Regions from separate parts of the Homo sapiens genome. Here all the other regions are reported to be linked to region 1. Evidence: microRNA targets listed by miRTarBase, many of them from high-throughput screens and not tested one by one. Region 1 holds a microRNA gene; each other region holds the end of a gene's coding sequence.

Region 1 (7,197 bases):
TTTTTTTTTGGTACTGATGGGTTAGGTTTGCAGCAAGGTGACACTTCACAGTCCCCAAAGCACCCAAACCCCCTATGGGGTTGGCCCTAGAATGCTCTCAGCCCCTGGGAACAACATCTTAAAGCAAAGACAAGCTGCTCGTGCCCAGATCTGACCTGAGAAAGTGAGTGTTGCGATATTCCTGGTACTTGTGAATCTAAGACGTCACGCTGGGAGCTGTGGTGCATACAGAATGCGTACAGAGTGGTGAATTTGCTGGAGGGTCTGGCTTTGTAAAAGCTTCCTCCTTAATGAGCTTTTTTTCTCACTTATGAAAAGAAATGCAGGGCATTAAAAGAGGAGCAAACCAAATCTAGCCTGTTTTTCATACTCACGGATCCAGTGGGAAAGCTGCATTCTGAATTGGCCACAGCAGCTAGAGATGCCTGGAGATTTCATCACTGTTGGGAAGACGAGTGCAGGAAGATGACAGCACACAGAAATTTCGTGTGTGTGTTTTCTTTAGAAATGGGATCTCAAACAACTGGGCTCAAGGGATCCTCCTGCCTAAGACTCCTGAGTAGCTGAGACTCCAGGAGAAATTTAGTATTAATAGACTGCCATTCAGGAATGGCTAGCACTCTACCTTTCTCAGGGAGATCTCAGGAAGTAAGGCATAAAGAGAGATGGTGGGAGATTTATGTGGATGGGATCGGGGCCCAGGGAAGCTAAACAGAATCCCTCAAGGCCTTTTCCACACTGTAGAAAATTGTGCTGGCATTTGGACAAGTCACCCTGCTTAATATCAAACATCTTTGCCTTAAGCATTATTTTTTCAAAGGAAATAACGTGTTAATACTTCCCAACCAGTGTATAATGTTTCTATTTGTTATTAGCTCGTACTATTTAAGTTCAGTTGTTAAGTTTGAAAATACTAGAACATTAAAAATCTGCAGAATGAGAAATTATTTTGTGAATGTTTAAAATATTCAAAAGTGGATCCTGACACTAACCACTTTTAATTTATTTTACTAGCGATATATTATTGGATGACTTTTTTTTTTTAAAAAAAGAAAACCTTCTGCTTGTTTGTTTAAACTGCTTTGTAAATTGACAGTTTAACCACCTCTGCAGAAACAAAGTAGTAATAAAAGATGTTGGCCATTTTAGCAATGTTTAAAAATTGCTCACAAGACAGAAAATGATTGGCACTCAATATGTGTTTAGTGATTGATGCAATAATACCATAAAATTATTGTACTGCATAATAAAGTATTTCACTAATAATTTGCTAAAAAATTAGCCTGAGGCCTGCCACTCAGCACAGCACTAACTTTTCATGCTTGTGACAAGTTGTATATGAGCAGGATGGGTTCCAACCTTCCCAATTTCAGAAGAGTATTTTGCAAGAAGGAATTTGTATTGAGAGTCCAGAAAGAAAATTGCCTAAAAGTTTTTAAATCCTCATTTTTCTCAATAAAAAAGTGCCATATGAATCATAAATTAACAAATGCACACAAAAGGAGAAAATGAAAACAAACCATAATTTCTCTACTGAAAGATAACCATGGTTAACATTTGATGTTTTGGCCTCAGGCATGTATGCATTTTTTCACAGAAAGGGACTCATACTGTGTATATTGTTTTATAAACTGTTTTTTAATTCAATAACATATCTTGAATTTCCAAGTCTACCAGACTTTTCTACAGAATCAATTTAAATAATTATGGTCTATCATAAATATATTACTCTTCTCCTATAGCTGGACATTTAGGTTGTTTCCAATGTTTACCCTTATAAACAATGCCACTATGAGCAACCTTATAGGTAAATCTTTCTACAAATTTTTGACATTTTCCTGGAGATAGATTTCTGGGCCATAGAAATTGAGGTTGATTTGGGGTGGGGGGAGTTGGTAAGATTTACCTGTAAAGGTTGATTTGGGGGGTGGGGAGTTGGTAAGATTTACCTGTAATGCATTAACTTCCTCATCTCTTTTCATCTTCCATCTGTTCCTTCCCTTTTCTGTATTTTGCAGATTATTCAAAGCCAAAAGCCAACAGAGCCCCCATGGAGAAGTGGAGGATGCTCAGATACTGCTATGGAGCCCTGAGAAGTGAAATGGGTCCAAGCCCTTGCCCAGGATAGAGCGCTCCAAGCGCATCCTCCGGGGACCCTTTTAATCAGTGAATTGTTCACCTCTCACTGTTTCTTCCCAGCAGAGCTAAGAGACTTCTAGAGCCTCTTGTGGATGGTCAGCGATAGCCCTGGTATGACCAGGAGGTGGCGATTTCTGTTCTAGGTCCCTCAGCAAAGACTAAGCAGGACAAGCCTGGCTACTGTGTTAGGAGGAGCTGTAGGGAAAGGGAAGGACAAGATGGGCCACCACATGCCTGTGTCCACTGCTGGCCACACCCAGAGTGCTAGGGGTTTGTGGCAGTGACTGGGGCCACCTAGAGCAGTTCTAGGGTTCGTAGTCATTCTCTCTGAGTCATGGAAAACTGCCCAGGAGGCGAGTCCCACCTAAGAGAGTATGTGTAGCACTGGCACGGCCTGCTGCCTTGCAAATGACCACATTTCATGAAAGAAAGCCAGGGCCACAGACAGGAACCAAAGGAAATCAGTCACTTAGGGGAAGATAACGAATCCACAAAGTGAAAAAGGGAAAGAAAAAAAGAGGCAACTTCAACACTCCAACCCATGGGAGCAGAACGACTTTCAGCTTTCGCAGGGGGATAATCACTGCAAGTCCAGCTTGAAGAGGGTGATTTCAGGATCTACATGAGAATAAGGCGCAATTTTTTTTTTTTTTTTCTGAAAAATACGGAAGGGTTCATTTACAGCTGTTAAAGATGGGCCGGTTTTAGGGCTAAAGCAAGACTCTGGTCAGATGTTAACAACTCAGTTATCCTGGGGAAAAAATAACTGGCTCCCAACCCTTTCCCTTTTCAGCATTTGCAGGAAAAGAAGGAGTAGGTAAAATGCTTTATTTCCTCTCATTCTCCATGGTGGGCAGGAGTTCACATAACAATTATAAACCATCTTTAACAGGAAAGCCAAGTAAATCCTGTAGGGATTTATTTGGAGCTCCCTTTTTGCTAGAAAATGAGTATCATGAACTAAAAATGGACTCGTTTCCTCTCTCTCCATCTTCCTCTCTTTCTTCTCTCCCCTCATCTCCCACCCACCGCCATGGTGGAAAATGACTGTGGTCAAGAAGATTGAACATTTGAGCAAGACCAGATGCCTTTATATCCAATAGATGCCACGGAGAGTAGATCACAACACATCTAACTGCTGTATCCCCATATAAAATAATTTTAATTTTCCTAGACTGCAGAATTGATCACATTTACTGATGATGGATTGGGAAGTAGGTGAAGAGGTGAGAGTTGGAGAGTATCCATTCATTCGGCCAGATTATTCTCATTTATAATGTAGTCTTCCAATAAGTATTTATTTCCAGAAATCTATTCCCTCTAGAGATTCTTTCTCTCTCAGCCATTTTAGAAAATTGTTGCAAACAGAGTTCCTGTCCATTTTCACAGGAAGTTTTTGCAGAAGGGGTTTGCTGGGTGGCAGTGGAACACAGGCAGTGGACCCCTCTACTACTCTACTGTTCCAGAACACAGAAGCCTTTCATTGAGAGTGTTCAGCTCTTCCCATTGCTCAAGATGCTTGTACCCGTGATGCTTCTTTTCTCTGCTTAGGTCACAATATGTGGAGCTGACAAGGTTCCCCTATTATCAGTGACAATGGTGGAATGTGGAGGTGAAGTTAACACCTTCGTGGCTACAGAGTTTCCTTAGCAGAGCTGTGGAGTGTGACAATGGTGTTTGTGTCTAAACTATCAAACGCCATTATCACACTAAATAGCTACTGCTAGGCAATCCTTCCCTCGATAAATGTCTTGGCATCGTTTGCTTTGAGCAAGAAGGTTCATCTGATATCAGTCTTCTCAATCTTGTGTACTTACTGAATAAAGTCTGGCTCTTTTGCACTCATAACCAATATGGTTAGCTGAACCCTGCCTCTCACATGCTGTTGTTACATACCTTAGCTGGTGATTAATTTTCTTGTTTTCCCAAGTCAATAAAAAGATTGCAGACCAGGCACGGTGGCTCACGCCTGAAATCCCAGCACTTTGGGAGGCCAAGGCAGGCGGATCACTTGAGCTCAGGAGTTCAAGTCCAGCCTGGGCAGCATGGTGAAACCGTGTCTCTACAAAAACTACAAAAATTAGCCAGGCATGGTGGCATGTGCCTGTAATCTCAGCTACTTGAGAGGCTGAGGTGGGAGGATCAATTGAGCCCACGAGGTTGAGGCTGTAGTGAGCTGTGATGGTACCACTGCACTCCAGCCTGTGTGACAGAGCAAGATCCTGTCTCAAAAAATGAAAATAAAAAGATTGCAGAGTTCCTCAGAGCCCCCAACACAAGGCCAGGCACGAGGTAATCATTTAACCCATGCTTATAGACTTAAAATGAATAGTTAGGAAAGTGTTAGACGCAGAAGGCTAAGACTGGGCTAAATCTATGTTATGCAGACAGACCGCAAGCTTATAGGTACAAAATTAAGGTGTGTGGGTCCTTCTCTTTTCGTCGTTAAAAAATCCAACTTTCTAATAAACTTACACATGGTTTCACTGACGTTTCAGAAATTCTAGAATATGTTTGATTTCTACTGATTTCAATCAATTACTAGGCTGATTACTGAATTCGTACACTAGGCCTTTCTTCCTCTTGCATCAGTGAATTACCATCAGAAAATTGTTTATGAAGCATGTGTGAGCTGCCATAGCAAATCTGGGACCCATGCAGTTTCTAGGACAGTTGGCCCAGCCAGGTGCTCTGGTTTGGAACCCATTCTGTCTCTGAGAGGTGTCTAAAGTCAGGAGTAGGTTTCGTTTGTGCCAGACTAAAGCTTCCCTCCCCAGGCTTGGTTAAATGAAGTAGGACATGTTTAATCAAATAGACAGGGTTAGATCAACCATCAGAAACAAATTCAACCATTCAACCATTCACTTATGAAATAAATATGTGTAGAGACTACCGTGTGCCTGACACTGTCCTAGGCATTGAAGACACTTTTAAATTAAATGTGTCTGATGTTATTTCCAGAGATGGGCATTCACTGGCTCGCATTATATTTTGGGACCATTGTAATTGTTCCAAACGGGAGCCAAATGAGCAAAACTTTGCGAAATAATTCTGAGTCCCTTGCTGGAAAGCCTCACCTGAATGCAGCCCACACATTTATGATACACTACAAAGGCTTCAAGGTCATGAGATGCCTCTGTCCAAAGAAGAAGAAGAGCACCCCTGCCTGCCCTGCATCTCTTACCACCTCTCATTTCTTCCCTCCTGGCACCATCTACTGTCAAGAAGAGAATCAGACTCCCTGAAATAATTGAGACACTGACATTCCTTTTTGTGTGTATTTTTTTGGCAAAGGCTCTAATTGAACAGGCATTAATAGAGGGCTCTACTGTTATACAGATCACGCTCATGCACACTGTATTAGTCTGTGTTTTCATGCTGCTGACAAAGACATACCCGAGACTGGGAAGAAAAAGAGGTTTAATTGGACTTACAGTTCCACATGGCTAGGGAGACCTCAGAATCATGGCGGGAGATGAAAGGCACTTCTTACGTGGCATCAGCAATAGAAAATGAGGAAAAAGCCAAAGTGGAAACCCCTGATAAACCCATCAGATCTCGTGAGACTTATTCACTATCATGAGAATAGCAGGGGAAAGACTGACCCCCATGATTCAATTACCTTTCCCTGGGTCCCTCCCACAGCACGTGGGAATTCTGTGCGATACAATTGAAGCCGAGATCTGGATGGGGACTCAGCCAAACCATATCACATGCCATTTCATTTGATCCATACAACATGGGGCAAAGATGATCGGTTTGACAAACAGAGTCTAAAGGGTTCTGGAATCGTCTGGTCCTCCAGCCACAACTCAACATGGATCTCTTAAGTCTAAAGTTCTGTCCTGTACCTGCAGCCTCCTTTGGCCTAGTTATTTTGTGAAATCTCATGCTTCACAGTCGAATCTGTGTAGAACCTGGGTTAATCACGCCAGTATGCGATCAATATCCTCATCTCCCCATCTGCTTTGTCAGTGGATTCTGAGGGAAAACCTGTAAATTAGAGAGGGATGAGCCATATAAGAATGTCTCCTTGTGAGTGTTCATTGTGCAGAGAAAGCTGAAAATTGCAAAACCCTGTAATCATGAAATGAAAGAGAAGGAACATCTAAGTGGTAGCTTTGGGGTCAGGAAGAGGGTAGACAAACTGTCCCAACACCAAGCAGCCATCTACATGACCCAGCCACCTGATGTGGCACCAAATGACCCAGAGTCTTGAGGTTCTGAACTGTTCCCAGACTCGGGGACAATGTGAGGACTGGGTCTTCCATGCTCCTTTTCACTCCCACTCACCCTGAGATTTTTCTCAGGTGGAATTAAACAGGGAGCCAAGTGAATAGCATTCTGTGTCTTTTCTGCTAGGTTGGCTCATTTAATGGCTTATTATGATTGCTGCCTGGATTCGTTTTGCATTCGGGATTGGAGACCTGTCATTTCTGTAGATCTCTAAGGAACACACATAGAAGGCAAAGCTTCCCTCTCCCCTTTCTACCTCTAATTACAATCCTGCTGCTCCAAATCTCTGATGATGGCATCTTCCCAGACCAGCTTTTATCTCCCCTTCCCTCCCCAGGATGATTACTGCCAGTCATTTCCAATAAAGCATTCCTGGGGACAGGTACTGACTCTGAATATGGTTTGCAAGATGAAAGGGTTCACTTGGACGTGCAGTTAAAAATCACACTCGTGCTGGGGAGGCAGCAGAGAACACAGTCACCTTGACATGTTTTCTTCCCCGGGAGACAAGCCACTTGAGTCTAGCTTTGCTTTGTGGATCACACCATGGAGTCCTGATGAATCCTTTCATCTTAGTACAATGTGTACTTTGAATGTGAAAGTTGCCACTTGCAGCCTGTCCAGTGTTCTATCCAGCCCCAGAGGAAGTTTTGTGAAATAACATGGCAGTTAGCATGTATCGATGGCTTATCTACATATTTTTATGAACTCTTCTTAAACCTATATTTTCTGATTCAATACTTCATTGAATCAGAAGACAAAGGAATGCTAGAACTGGAAAGCAGTCTACTCTTTGTTCTGATGAGGAAATCGAAGCCTAGG
Region 2 (7,197 bases), not on the chromosome of region 1:
AAAAAATAACTGGGTGAGACGTGGACTGTGGACAGGTGTGGAAAAGGCACTCTCCATGGAGGTATGAATATGTAGAGGGCCAAGAGAGGGGAGTACAGGGAGAAATGAGTTGAGCTTGTCTGAAGTGAACTTCAGGAAGAGGAACATAGGCTGGAATTTAGATTATGGGGGCTCTGAACACCAAACTGAGTTTGGACTTAATTGACTTCTGTAGGCAACGAGGAGCCATGGAGATTCTGCTCAGGGAAGTGAGGAACTGGGCATGCCTTAGGAAAATTAACCAGGGGGTGGCTGGCAAGCAAGCAGACAGCAGGAAAGGAACGCTGTGGGGATAGGGAGGAAGAACCTCGCATGACCTTGCTAACACAGCAACATCCCAACCGTTGGTTCGGCCTAGAAGCTGGTATTTGGGCCATCTGTTTCCCATTGTCTTAATTTTCTGCTCATTAGAAATTGAACCCCTAAACCAGTCCACACAAGTACGTTATCTAAGTAATGTTGCATTCTGCTTCTCTTAGACTACTTTTTTTTTTTTTTTTTGAGACAGAGTCTCGCTCTTTCGCCCAGGCTGAAGTGCAGTGGCGCTATCTGCAAGCTCTGCCTCCTGGGTTCACGCCATTCTCCTGCCTCAGTCTCCCGAGTAGCTGGGACTATAGGTGCCCGCCACCATGCCCGGCTAATTTTTCATATTTGTAGTAGAGACGGGGTTTCACCGTGTTAGCCAGGATGGTCTCGATCTCCTGACCTCGTGATCCGCCTGCCTCGGCCTCCCAAGGTGCTGGGATTACAGGCGTGAGCCACTGCACCCAGCCCTCTTAGACTACTTTCTACTCGCGAGATGCAACCCCTATTCCTGGCTGCTGTCTGGCAGCTTTTGTTCTCACTGACATCCTAGTTCCAAGAATAAATCGGATGCTGCAATGCTGCTGTTGGGGATATGCTGACACAGCTCCTCAGAGAGGAGAAAGGTGGTCGTCTCTCTGGTGGAGTTGTCAGAACTGCTCAGTTTAGAGGTTCTTGGAACAAAAGTCGTTTAAACTCACAAAAGAAAGAGATTCTTTAACTCCCAAGAGCTTGACTGGGGTGGGGGAGGCAGCGGGGGACATCCCTGAAGTGTTGAAGTACCTAGGCCAGTAAATAAATGCAGGTCACAGAGACTTAAGTCACAGATTTCTTGACTTCAGACTGCTCACTTGCATGTTCTACAGTTTTTAGACAGATGTGTGTCTCAGCCATTTAAGAAAAACATTGTTTGAGGCCAGGAACGGTGGCTCATGCCTATAATCCCAGCACTTTAGGAGGCTGACGTGGGTGGATCACTTGAGGCTAGGAGTTTGAGACCAGCCTGGCCAACGTGGCAAAACCCCATCTCTACTAAAATACAAAAGTTAGCTGGGTGTGGTGGTGCACGCCTGTGGCTCCAGCTACTTGGAACACTGAGGCAGGAGAATCGCTTGAGCCTGGGAGGCAGAGGTTGCAGTGAGCTGAAATTGTGTCACTGTACTCCACCCTGGGCAACAGAGCAAGACTCTGTCAAGAAAAAAAAAGAAAGAAAGAAAGAAAAAAAAAAAAACACTGAGGACCAGTGCGAAGGAACCCCCAGCCACTGAATCTCCGGCAGAAATTCAGCTGGTTTCATCCCCTCCCCCTTTGCAGGACAAGCTCTTCTTCAGGATTAATGAAATGAACTGAGGCAGTGAGGCCCCTGGGGATGGAAATGGGAGGTAAAAAGGCCCCAGCATTCCTCCCACGCAGTCTTGGAACCACAGACTAGATAGAGACAATTGCTCAGAAGAGGCCCCTGACTGAGAGACGGGGCCCCAGCCCAGTGATGCAAATTCTAAAACACGCTCAAAGAGCAACACATCATTACCGGGAATGGGTGTCAGGGGAAATTAAATATCATCTCCTCATTATTCCCAGCTAGTTAATAAAACAAGCAGATGGTAACAGTCCAGGAGAACAAGATCTCCAGGTACCTGTGCAACTCTTCTTACTGGGTGAAAACCTAGAGGAACTCTGGGATGGTGACACTGTACCCTCCCAGAGCCCCAGTCATGTCTGTTTATCAGAAAGTGCATAAACTTTTCACTCCACTTAACTTCAAAAGCCAAAGACTCATGCAATCCTCAGTACTTAGGATCTTGGAGGAAGTTTCAGAGTTTGAAATTAAATTTCCTTTTATTTTATTTTATTTTGAGATGGAGTCTCACTCTTTTTGCCCAGGCTGGAGTGCAGTGGTGCGATCTCAGCTCACTGCAACCTCCGCCTCCCGGGTTCAAGCGATTCTCCTGCCTCAGCCTCCCCAGTAGCTGGGATTACAGGTGCCCGCCACCAGGCCCAGCTAATTTTTATATTTTTCAGTAGAGATGGGTTTTGCCATGTTGGCCAGGCTGGTCAAATTTCCTTTTAAAAATTTTAACAGGGCCAGGCGCGACGGCTCACGCCTGTAATCCCAGCACTTTGGGAGGCCAAGGCGGGTGGATCACGAGGTCAGGAGATCGAGACCATCCTGGCTAACACAGTGAAACCCCATTTCTACTAAAAAAAAAAAAAAAAAAAAAAAAAAATTAGCGGGGCACGGTGGTGGGCTCCTGTAGTCCCACCTACTCTGAGGCTGAGGCAGGAGAATGGCGTGAACCCAGGAGGCAGAGCTTGCAGTGAGCCGAAATCGCACCACTGCACTCCAGCCTGGGCGACAGAGTGAGACTCCGCCTCAAAAAAAAAAAAAAAATTCTAACAGTTGGCCAGGCGCAATGGCTCATGCCTGTAATCCCAGCACTTTGGGAGGCCGAGGCAGGCAGATCTCAAGACGAGCCTGGCCAACATAGTGAAACCCTGTCTCCACTAAAAATACAAAAAAAAAAAAAAAAAAAAATTAGCTGGGCATGGTGGTGGGCGCCCTGTAATCCTAGTTACTCGGGAGTCTGAGGCAGGAGAATCGCTTGAATCCAGGAGGCGGAGATTGCAGTGAGCCAAGATCCCGCCACTGCACACCAGCCCGGGCAACAGTGCAAGACTACGTCCCCCAAAAAAAAAAAAAAAAAAAAAATCTAACCATTAAAATAATGAGTATTGATGGCATGGAGTCCCCACCTACCGGCCACAGAGAAAAGTACATGTATACAACCAACTTCCTGTCCCACCACCAGGGTCAGAGCACCCGGGAGCACAGGCGAAGAGACAGTTGACGCCGGCTGAGAGGGAGAAGGGGTGGAGCACTAGCTGGCACTGAACACTCACAGTGAGTACGCATTGAGTTTTAAGGTTTTTTGATGGCCATGAGATGTTTATAGAAAATTGTTACAGGTGTGGCGTAACAATCGACTCGCAGTGCCTTATCTTGTAAGAAGCCTCTCCTGGAATAAAGACGCCAGAGTACTGCGACACCGTTTCATGCCTAAATTAACAAGACAAGAGAAGCAGGTCAAGAGAATGCGGAAAGCCCTAGACTAAATGCCGGCAGCTTCAACGATTTCGTCTTTTAAAACTCTGGTGAAAAATAACTAGGTGGATCTGGACCTTATGCTCACAACCCTAAAAATGACATTAATATCAGCATCTGCTATCTTCCAGATGTGACCAAAGAATCGATCAAAACACATGCTTTAGGTCTGCTGGCTAGACAGGACAGAAGCAGTAAGATCCTCCTGAGTCGATGAATTCCTTACTCACTGCTTCTACTGAGGTTTGAGTGGCATAGCACTGTTGTTAGTTCTGGTAACAAACCACTTAGGACATAGAAGACTGGTGAAACTCAACTTTATTAAACTTAAACAGAGAAGCTACTTCTGCACATGTTAAACACACATGGAACCAAACAGCTCGATGGAGACACCCTGCACTGCTTATGGTGATGCTGCAGGAATGGCGGCAGCGATGCCCGCTACACTCCATGGCCTGCTGCACATGTGACAGGACAGTTATTTCATCTATGCTTACACCTGCAGGTCCCTTACCCTAGAAACACTCTATATCTTCTTAGGTACTTCCCTTGAAACAGGATGAGTTCTAGAGGAAATAAAACTGCTGCACTTACAAACCTAGAAATATTCAGGGACCAAGATTAGTTGTTCAGTGACCTAGGAAACCTTAGAATCCTGTAGGTTCCTCAGGAGAGGTGCTTCCAAGTACTTGAGAATCCACAGGCAGAGATGCTTCCCTTTCCATGGTGGATGTGTATGTCACTCCAGGACAAACTGCGGAGTCACGGAGTGTGGAACACATCTGGTTGTGTACAGTACACTATCCCAGAGGAAAATCACAAAGCAACACAACTCTGCAGCAAAAACTAGTCCCAAAGTCAGAAGATAAAACTAGCAAAAACTTTGCACAATATTTAGAGAAAAGCTCTAGGGTGTGGAGAGTACGGGTCTTCCTTTTTCTCCATGCACCAAGCAGAGCACAGTATCATTCCTTAAGCTATAAACAAAAACCCTTTTGTATAAATATTTAAATAGTAACAGACACACTGAACTAGGACAAAAATGACCCACTGGGAAAGAAAGCCTGAGGTATCCCTTTAGTTGCCATGTTTCTTAAACTGGGTTGCTTACACCCATGATCAACACAGTCCATCTTCCTACAGCACTGATTTTATTCAGAGATTTAGGAGAAATGTTTTGTCTTAGAATGAAAAGGGACTGGTAGATATTAATGAATACATGATAGGAGTACAAAAGAAAAGACTGAGGAAATGATAACTTTACCAAGCAGCTTCAAGGATCAACCACACCCTCGATGGTAAGCTTTCTCTTTTTCTAGGGCGACAGATGGAAAAGTTTCCGACCAACGGGAAGGTTACGATCTGGTACCAGTCCAGCACTGACAAATGGAGATATGAGCTCACTCACTCACAGCTGTGCTCACCTTCATGGGAAGAGTCGGCCCTCTACTCCAGTACGATGACACACAAACCCTGGCTGCACTGGGGATTATGGGATCGGCTTCTCTGAAACTCTCTTACTTTTTAAAAATCCTGTAGAAGGATCAGGTAACAGGAAAATGGCCGGTGAATTCTGTAAAAGGAAGTGAGTAGAACTGTTTTGGGTTAGAAAAGAAGCACTTTAGGCAGCCACCATGGGAAGAAGGCGGGTCACCTTCTCACTGAAGATAAGAGACCAAGTGCTGATGGACAGCAACAGGCAGTGTCTGAAAACTAGTCCGATACCATCATGGTCTTTGAGGGAAAATCTGATTCCACTGGGGTTTCCATGTCAATAGTGGACTCAAATTTAAAAAGTCTCCAGTCCATTTCCAGAAGTACAAGTGTTTTCTACATGAGTAGAGGAATCAGAAAGAAACCAACTCAACTCTTTCCTTCCCATCCCTCCTTAAGGTAGAGTCCGACTGCTTTTCTTGCCAATCTTTCATTTAAGTGTCTCCTCCTAACTCCTTTACTTCTTTTTCCTCTTTCTTCTCCTTCATAGAGCAGATCCTTAAGTGGCCTTTCCTTGACTGACATTCATTTTCTTCCCATCTTTCTTTCTTTTTAATCTTTCTATCTTAAAAAATCAACAAAGAAGTCTTTCATTGGCTTTAGATAATTAAAGCCAAGCAAGCTAAACAAATGTTGGTCTTTCCTATAGAAACCACGTTTAAAATGGTTACATAAGCACCAAGCTTCCTACCCCCATCACACACCTTGTCCTTGAGAACTGGTGTTGCTGTGTTTCAGTTCTGTCCAGTTCTCCCTGGTGACCTTTTCCTCCCTTGATTAGTTCCATGGCACTGAAGGCTAAGGAAAAAAGGGAGCGGGTGGGTCCAGGAGGGGACTGACCTAGGAGACAGGCTGATATTTTTTTTTACTTTTAGACAAGTAAGAAATGAAAAAATGTGCAAGACTATTCCCTCAGCAAATGCTCCCTTCAGGTTCGAACTTGGAACTTCCCAGCTTTGGTCATGTATTTTATGCCCTTAAAGGGTTTGTACTTTTCTCCATACATATCCAGACGATTCACCTTGAGTCCTAGAAAGGAGGGAGAGAGGGAAAATAGACATGAGTATTATTCAAAAGGAGCAGGTCGCCTAACTGTTTCTGTTCAATACACTGAAGTCAGTGGGACCGACATTGCTGTGACAGGGAACCACTTATGCAGAGCAGATGGATTCTCCAGTCTTGGGACAGATACTGACAGCAAAAAAAGGCTCCAACAGACAAGCTACCTATGAGAAGACCTGTCCCTGAAGTGGAAAGGGTACAAAGTAATGTGCAGACTAAAATGAGGATAAGGAAAAAATTAGACCACTGCATGATTTTTCTCAAATTATTGGACTGAAAAAATGAATAACAAAACAAATGAATAATGAAGTAAATTATAAATAAAGGAATTAACAATGAAAGTAATTAATAAATGAATGCTTCCTAAGTATTCTCACTAGACTAAGCCAAGAATATTTTATATGGTATAGAGCTTTATAGTTTATTGTTTTAAGATTGAAGAGCTTATACATCAAATGAATTCCAATCACTTAAATTGTATAAGGCCCGTTTGTACAGAAAAACAGAAACTTCATATAAAGCTAAAGTCATCTCCTTTCCACATCACAGAGTTTCTAAGGATTAAAAAAGAAAACACATGAAAAGAGCTTAAAACAGTGCCTGGAACATGGTAAATGCCCCCAAAGTGGTAACTGATGACTACCGTGCTAAGGTCGGCACAGACTATAGTGAACTGACCTGGAAAGGCCCAGTGGTTCCAAAATAGAAATAAGAGCAAACATGAAAGTCTTCTGAAAACAGAAGAAAGGAGTGGAAATTACACTTCAGTTATAGCTGAGAATGCACATGGATTCTCATACTGAAAACCTTGGGAACCTGAAATGAACAACCCTAAGATGATCCAAAAATGGCTAGTGAATACTTCCTTCTACCAATACTGTTTCTTTCTCAGTGTGTCTTAGGCACTTTTATTCAGGTCACTTATGCCAACTTCAAAGGAAGGATTGTAAATTTTCCCCAGAAACATGCCAGAAAAGATGTTACTAAAGATTGTTTATCAGGTAATGAAACTAAACCTTGTAAACAGGAAGCCCAGAAAGGCTTCCTGGTGCCTGCGCCATATGGCAGAAAGCCGTTTTTGTTCCCTTTGGAGCCTCTTGAGCTCTGGGTCACTTACCAGAAATGGCCAGCTGCTGGATCTTAAACTGCAGGTTAATTGTGGGGTTTTCATCTGGTTTGGAAGCTCCAGCCTGAAG
Region 3 (7,197 bases), not on the chromosome of region 1:
CAATACCCTGGGGATACCTGAGAGGGGCAAATATTAATACATTATCTCTGGACCTTGGCTGATAGAATGCTCACAAGTAAAGCCCATCAGGAGCCCGGAGTTCCAAATTATAAAGCTTGAGGAAACAAAAGTGATACGTACTTCTCTCAGAAAACTTGGAAAACACTGAAAAGCAGAAGGAAGGAGAAAACCTCACATTCCCTTAGCCCTACCCCAAGACAGTATCTTCTTCTCCATGTTGTTTTACACAGCTGAAATCATGTAGCATATACAGAGGCACGTCATAAATTCACAGATGGAAAATAATATGAACAGAGAGATTTGACAGTATATGATACCTACCACTGAGTGGTTTAATTGTTTTTCCAATTAAAAAATAAATCTCATCTCTCAGATCATTGAATCTGAGTTTCTAAGATGAACAAAATCATCACTCAGATTCTTCGGGGAGGCATTTGGCCATTCTACCGTGTCATGCATCTCTGCTTTTGCAGAGGAGGAAGGAGAGACTTTTGTTTAGTAATTTCTCCATATTGGGGTCCTGCTGTGAAAAAGTTTAGCTGTTCTTAGCAAGCACTGGACCAGAACAGCCTCAGCGATTATTTAAGTGATTGTCAGACATGCATCTGATTGAGGTGAGAAGGATATTGCCAGAGAAATATCTTAACTTCTTGTAACTTCTTCAAGCTCCTTAGAGCTGGGTCTTTCTTTCCCCAGGACTCTTCTCAGGGGAGCTCCCGGAGTGCACTCAGGAGCTGATGATTGACGTCACCAAGAGCTACTACCAGAAGTTTTTGCCCCTGACGCAAGTCTAGCATCTCTGCCTCATGTCTTGAATCTGCTTGAGCTCTAAGATGAACCTGGGGACAAAGTGAGCCAGTCAGCACCTACAAAGAGCTTTTGTGTCTTTGACATCTACCACCCTCCTCCTTTTAAAAAATTTCTTTAGAATTTCTCAATCTTCAAGGCTCTAAGTGCTTAAGAATTCACTAACAGACAGACCATCTGGAGGAGCTGTCTTCAAATGCTGTGCTTACACCTTATCTATGAACAGTCACTTTGTACCATTATCTGTGGAACACAGAATCATCTGTTCCCAACACTCCAGCCCCTTGGTCCTGTGGATGGCTGGATCCCGCCTGAAACGGACCTGCAGAGCAGCAGCACCCTTCCGGTGTGGAGGCTATGTAGCTGGTGCGCTGCTCACGGCCATTCACTGCCCATGCTGAGCGCCTCTCACACAGGTAATGCCCAGCTTTTCTGCTGCTAACACATTTGGCCAGTTGTTGCAGTTGCTCATCATCTTGGGAAAGGTGTTTGTGACTTTTCAGAGCCCAGATTCCTGTTGTCTATTAAAACTTGAAGGGAGGGGTGAATAGTGTTTCTCTCTTCTTCCCAAAATGACCTTAGCTGTCCTAGGATAGTTAGTAAAAGACTTTTTAGCATTTTGACCTAGGGCCTTTGGCTTTCACTAAAAGTGGGGACCTCAGTATCCCAGATTGTAATTTTGCCAAGTGTTAGATTTGAGTCTCTCATGTGGATGCATTAGTCAGGTGGTTACTCCTTGCTTCAAGGTACTTACCTTATTTCATTGAAGACACCGCATTTGTGAACTCTTGCTTCCTGGCCTAGAACCATTCAGCCTACCCTGTATTTGCCATAAACTCCACAATTCACACCAAAATGTCTGTACTTAGAGCTAATTCGCATATATACAGGAAGGGCTCTTAGAATCAGTTTGTGGGCACAGAGCCTCAGGAGTAAATGAAGTTACTAGGGCTGTTCTTACCATCTCCTTCTGGCCAAATAGCACAACATTTCCTCGTTCTGCTCTGACCTCTTAGCTTAGAAGGAAGATTCAGAAGTGAGGGGCTAAGAAGGTTGTCCTTGCCTAATGCTCTGATCTGTAAGTGAATAGGGCAGAACAGTTCAGCCTTGAGGTTAGAATTTAGCAGGAGCTATCCTGACTTAATATCCAGTTGTGGGGTTTGCAAAACAAAACAGCTGTATGTAATCATTGCCACTAGTTCCATCTAGAACTCCTTTCTAGTTTGTTATTTTTAAAATGTTTATACATAAAACCACCAAAATACATAGCTTCGACAAGATGGAAGTTTATTTCTCTCTCCCATAACAGTGCAGTGATAGTCAGCTGGTCCAGGCCAGGCAAGGGGCTGGTCCATGATGTCATCAGGCACCCAGGTTCCTACTGTCTTGCCATGTGGCCACAGTTAGCAACAAAGGAGGCTGTAAATTTAGTTTCTACTTGGGCAGCCAAAACTCTGAGGAAGGAGATTCTGCTAGTAAAAAGGAGTGGGGGAAGAATGGCCATTGGGAGACAACAAGCAGACTCAACCAGGCCTCTTTGTTGGCTTCCTTTCCTCCTGCTGCACATGAGCCTTCGCCGTGCATTTGGAGCCATGACAGCTGATAGCTCCAGACCTGCATCCTCCTAGCTTGGGGGCTCTGAATGAAAGGTTTCTTCCCTTCCAGTTCGAATTTGGAAACTCCCAAAGTTCTCAATGGTTTGTTGTGAGTTCCATGTCCTCTTGGATCAGTCACTGTGGCCATGCATGTTTGGCCACATGATTAATCCAGTCTGGGTCATGACCTTTTCTTCATCCAAAACAAGGTGATGGGAAGACAAAAACAATAGCTACTACAAACAATAGGAGTTTATAATTATGTGCTGATGTATTCGAAGATGTGTTGACAGTCGTGAGTGTGTATCCTAGGAAAGGCGAGCTGGACTCTGTCTCCATGGTGGCTCTCACCCCAGGGACCTAGGAACAGCCTGTCACCACACAATTACTTTTATAACCCTGGAGATGAAAATCTCCTTGTCCTCAAAATACTTCCAGAAGAACAACCAGATGGGAAGGACCTTGGTTGGGACTCTTTCCAGTTCACTTGGGGCAGAGGGAATTTAATGGCTCACGTAGCTGAAAAGGATGGGCTAGATTGGGCTTCAGGCTGCATCCCAGGACTCCAAACAGGGATCTGTCTCTTTGGCTCTCAGCTCTGCTTTCATTTGAGTTGGCTTTATTCTTGGGCTTCACAGTGTGGCCCCACAGCACCAGTTATTGATAAAAAGAGCTCCCCTTTGCTGACAGAACTGCTGGATTTGGTTCTCATTGGTCCAGACGAGGAAGGTATCCAGCCTCAAGTCATCATTGTGGCCAGGAAGATGGAATACACCAAATGGACAGGCCTGGCATGTACCCACAGAGACTGAGAGTTGGTGCTGGTGGTTGTGGTGGCAGATGATATTACCTGAAGAAGGGACGAATGGGTGCTGGGCAGGACAAAGCATCAGCTGTCCAGTTCAGGCCTCTCCTCTTTCCCTGGTGTCTTCATTTTCCTCCGTCTCCCTGCTGTCCCTTACCCTCTGCCCAATCTCTCATTACTCCTGGTCTTGGGAGTTGCCTTCTGAGGATACTCCACTGGGGGTACCTGAGCCTGGATTAGAGGGCAGGGGGAGGATATTGCCTAGCCAAAGTGGGTGTTCAATAAAGAACCATTTGGAGATGGTCTTCTGTCTGGAACTGCTTCCTTTTTGTTTTATTATTTTTCCCCAGATGAGCTGACTGGGCCATGGAACTGCATCCTTATGGTTCCCATAGCACCTTACCGAGGCGCCCTTATCAATAGAGTTTTAGTTATGTACCTGTGTTCTTGTCTGAACCCCTACTAACTGTGAGCTCCTGAGGAGTCAGGCCTGAGTCTGTGGGTCATCTAGCACATCCTTAATAGAATGATTGCCTGGATGTGACCACCCTCACCCCCAACCCTCACACACCCTGCCAGCATGCCTCAGACCTTACCCCAGCTCAAGATAAGTCTCAGATTGCAGGATACCTGCTGCAGGGAACAAAGGTGAATGATTGTCTTGTGAGCCTCCTGTTGACTGATTCTGTTTTACATGGCTGCACAGAGCCCTTGTGGTTATTTGGGGTTGGGGTGGTGGCTTCTGTATTAGTCACTTCTGCATGAACCATTTCACTCAGGATCTGAGGCCACAGTTCCTTTCTTAGTCACTGATACATCTGGCAGACTTGAAATTAATCAGACAAACATTGTTCATAGTTAACATATCCTTGGAAGTTTCTCAGCTATAAGGAAGAGGTCTTGGTGGCTAGGGAGGCCTTTCTCTGTATCCTGTTCTATCCAGTGAGAGCCTAGAGGGTGCTGCCCAGCCATATTCTGGCTAGCCTCAGCGGTTCTCCTGAAAAAAAATTGGCATCTGACAACCTGGATGGTGACTATAGGTAGTCAAATCCAGCTGGCTGGTCTCCTGGGGGTTAGCTTCCATGGAGCTGCAAGTCCCCTGAAATGATACTGGCAGTGTTGGGACAGCGTGTCCGAAGGCCTGGTTTTTTCAGAACTGGTCTCAGCAAAATGTCTCGCCAACTTCTACAGTTCCCATAAGTACATGATAACTGAAACACTTCTAGAGCCCCCCAGCAATGGGCTTGTGCTTTTAGTAGAATATGTGCTTGCTTCCATTTAGGGGTAAGAAGGTGGGCCCCTCACCATATGCTGCACAGAGAAGAGAGACACCATCACTCATTTATTCATTTAACAAGTGCTTTCCAAGCCACTACTAGGTGCCAAGCACTTCCTAGGTCCTGGGGATACAGTGGAGACTAAGATGGAGCCAGTTCTTTCTCATAGGGATCTCACAGCTTAGTGAGTGAGAAAGCCAAAGAGTCAAAATACAGAGAGGGTCTGAGGGGCCCATTTTGAGAGCCATCATAGTGGTGAGGAGTGTGAGTGCTAGAGTCAGGCTGATCAAATCCCAGCCTGCCATTGGCTAGCCTTGTGACTTTGAGCAAGTTATCTTACTTCGTGGAACCTCAGGTTTCTCATCCATAAAATGGGGAAGTTGGATAGGGTATTATGATGATTGAAATGCATTTATACATGTAAAGCATAAGTACTGGCTCAGGGTGAGCACTCAATAAACGGCAGTTTATTAGGCACTTTTATTAGGAAGTGATACACCTTGAGCAAAACCCCTTAGAGTATAAGGCATAGCATTCTTACATATTTTTAAAATTTAAAATAAAATTTAAAACATCTTGCCCTTTATAATCAGTCCGCCACAAACAAGAGATGGAGAAATCACCCTTCCTTGTTTTGTATCTATGGGGTGCAAACATTTAATCCTCCCAACTGTCAAAAAAGTGAGAGTTTCACAGCCTGTTTTACAGCAGAGGAAACTGATATTCAGAGAGGTTAAGTAAATTTGCCCAATGCCACACATCTAATAAATGGCTGAGCTGGAATCAAGGCCAGCTCTTACTTGGCTGCAAAATCCATGTTTTATGCAGCTCCTCCACTATCTTGGCCTCCAAGGCAGCTGGCTTTGAACACTACCCTTGCAGCCCAGTCAGCCAATCCCTTGCTCTCCTGAAGCTTTTGCTGGTGGGCCAGCCCCACCTGCTTTCCTTGTGCACTCTGACTTGGACCCTGAAGTGAGAAGAGTTGGCACAGGACATCTTACTTCCCTGAAAACAGTACCTGGACTTTTCTGTATCTTCACATCCATTGGGCATTGGGCAAATGGGTCATGCAGATGAAAACCATCCAAGATAAGAGACATGGGAGTGAAATTCACACCCACTCTGGCTTTCATACCATGGGTCTGAACATTAGCCCATGGTGTTTCTTGGCCATACTGACCTGTGCCATTTCAGCTGCATTCATCTCAGTTGGTGTTGTCTGCTGGCTGCTCTTTCTGATTTCCCACAGGAGCAGTAAGAACCTGAGGAAGAGTAGGGTCAGAGGAGTCTGGGAGAATGAGGAAATATGAGAGCCCCAGGAACTGAAAAGGCCTGTGAGAGACTCTGAGCTTCCTGGGAACAGGTATAGGTTCTTTTTATTTCAATAATAACAGAAACAACTGTCAAAACCATGTGCCTGTACTATTTGGAGTGCTGTCCTTGCAGAATCTCATTATAAGAACCTTAGGAAATAGGCACATCATCTCCTGGATAGAATCCTAGGAAATGGGCACTATAATGGGCACTTTATCCCATTTTATAAACATGGAAATTGAGGCACAGAGAGATTAAGTACTTTCCCAAGGTCATACAGCTAGTGATGGAGGAGCTAGCATTTGAACCCGGAGTTTTTAGTCTATTGAGTTTAACCGACAGATCATACTGTGTTTTGGTAGGGAGGGAGGGAGGAAGCAAGCAAGTGAACAAATGAGTCTGGGATTTAGGACTTGCCAGACAAACAAGGCCCAAGAGGCAAGTGTGCAGGTGGGTGTAGTTGGGAGTCAGCAGAGTTGGGTTGGAATTCAAGCTTTGCCACCTGCTGGCTATAAACCTTGGTTGGGTAAGTAACCCAAGGTAAATGAGATCATCTCTGTAAAACTCTTAGCCTTGTGCCTGGCACATAGTAAATGCTTAATAAGGGTTCACTGTTAGTATTACTGTTACTGATAACATACAAATAGATTGTATTAATGGACCATAATTGCAACTGTATAAAACAAATTCCATGTTTGGCCAGGCGCAGTGGCTCAAGCCTGTAATCCCATCACTTCGGGAGGCCGAGGTGGGCAGATCACGAGGTCAGGAGATCAAGACCATCCTGGCTAACACAGTGAAACCCCATCTCTACTAAAAATACAAAAAAATTAGCCAGGCATGGTGGCGGGTGCCTGTATTCCCAGCTACTTGGGAGGCTGAGGCAGGAGAATGGCGCGAACCCAGGGGGCGGAGCTTGCAGTGAGCTGTAATTGTGCCACTGCACTCCAGCCTGGGCGACAGAGCGAGACTCCGTCTCAAAAAAAAAAAAAAAAACCACAACAACAACAACAAAAATTCCATGTTGACAAGGATGGGAATATGAGAACATGGAAACAGCTATGAAAAGACATAAGAGAATTAGGAGGATTTTCTTTAATATATCATTTTTTAAAAAAAAACTTGCTTGTATTTGTTTATTTTTTAAATAGAGACAGGGTTTTACCATGTTGCCCAGACTAGTCTTGAACTCCTGGGCTCAAGCGATCTTGGCCTCCCTAAGTGCTGGGATTACAGTCATGAGCCACTGTGCCCCGCCATTTTTTAATAAACCTTTCTAATGGAACAAGTAAAACACATGCAGTGGATGCTCAGCAGGCCTTGAGTGTGTGAATGAAAAATATTTGAACTTGTTTTTACTGGTTGATTTCATTGCTTA

The links. Region 1 holds the annotated microRNA hsa-miR-122-5p (UGGAGUGUGACAAUGGUGUUUG, at 3,798-3,819, shown strand). A microRNA usually pairs through its seed, bases 2 to 8, with sites in the 3' UTR of a target mRNA and lowers its output. Matches are read on the target gene's strand: a 7mer-m8 pairs with bases 2 to 8, a 7mer-A1 pairs with bases 2 to 7 and ends in A, and an 8mer does both.
Region 2: the mRNA of AP3M2 is a reported target of hsa-miR-122-5p. Seed matches in the 3' UTR shown: 7mer-m8 at 4,212-4,218.
Region 3: the mRNA of DCTN5 is a reported target of hsa-miR-122-5p. Seed matches in the 3' UTR shown: 8mer at 1,100-1,107 and 7mer-A1 at 6,763-6,769.

Annotation. Positions count from the first base shown.
Region 1 is chr18:58,447,291-58,454,487 of GRCh38, forward strand. It overlaps MIR122 (microRNA 122), which reads left to right and starts at 3,784; the gene lies at 3,784-3,868. MIR122HG (MIR122 host gene) reads left to right here. Exons shown (of 3, transcript NR_170245.1): 2 at 2,019-2,250; 3 at 3,529-3,991. It overlaps MIR3591 (microRNA 3591), which reads right to left and starts at 3,862; the gene lies at 3,790-3,862.
Region 2 is chr8:42,167,732-42,174,928 of GRCh38, reverse strand. AP3M2 (adaptor related protein complex 3 subunit mu 2) reads right to left here. Exons shown (of 9, transcript NM_006803.4): 8 at 7,119-7,197; 9 at 3,746-5,968. The coding sequence ends at 5,868. It overlaps PLAT (plasminogen activator, tissue type), which reads left to right. Exons shown (of 14, transcript NM_000930.5): 14 at 1-211. Among named protein-coding and RNA genes, the nearest start is that of AP3M2, 18 kb to the right of the region's middle. RefSeq lists enhancers at 1,476-1,555, 2,203-2,702, 2,703-3,204, 2,984-3,278.
Region 3 is chr16:23,666,330-23,673,526 of GRCh38, forward strand. It overlaps DCTN5 (dynactin subunit 5), which reads left to right. Exons shown (of 6, transcript NM_032486.4): 6 at 718-7,197. The coding sequence ends at 815. Among named protein-coding and RNA genes, the nearest start is that of PLK1, 9.0 kb to the right of the region's middle. RefSeq lists an enhancer at 4,085-4,314.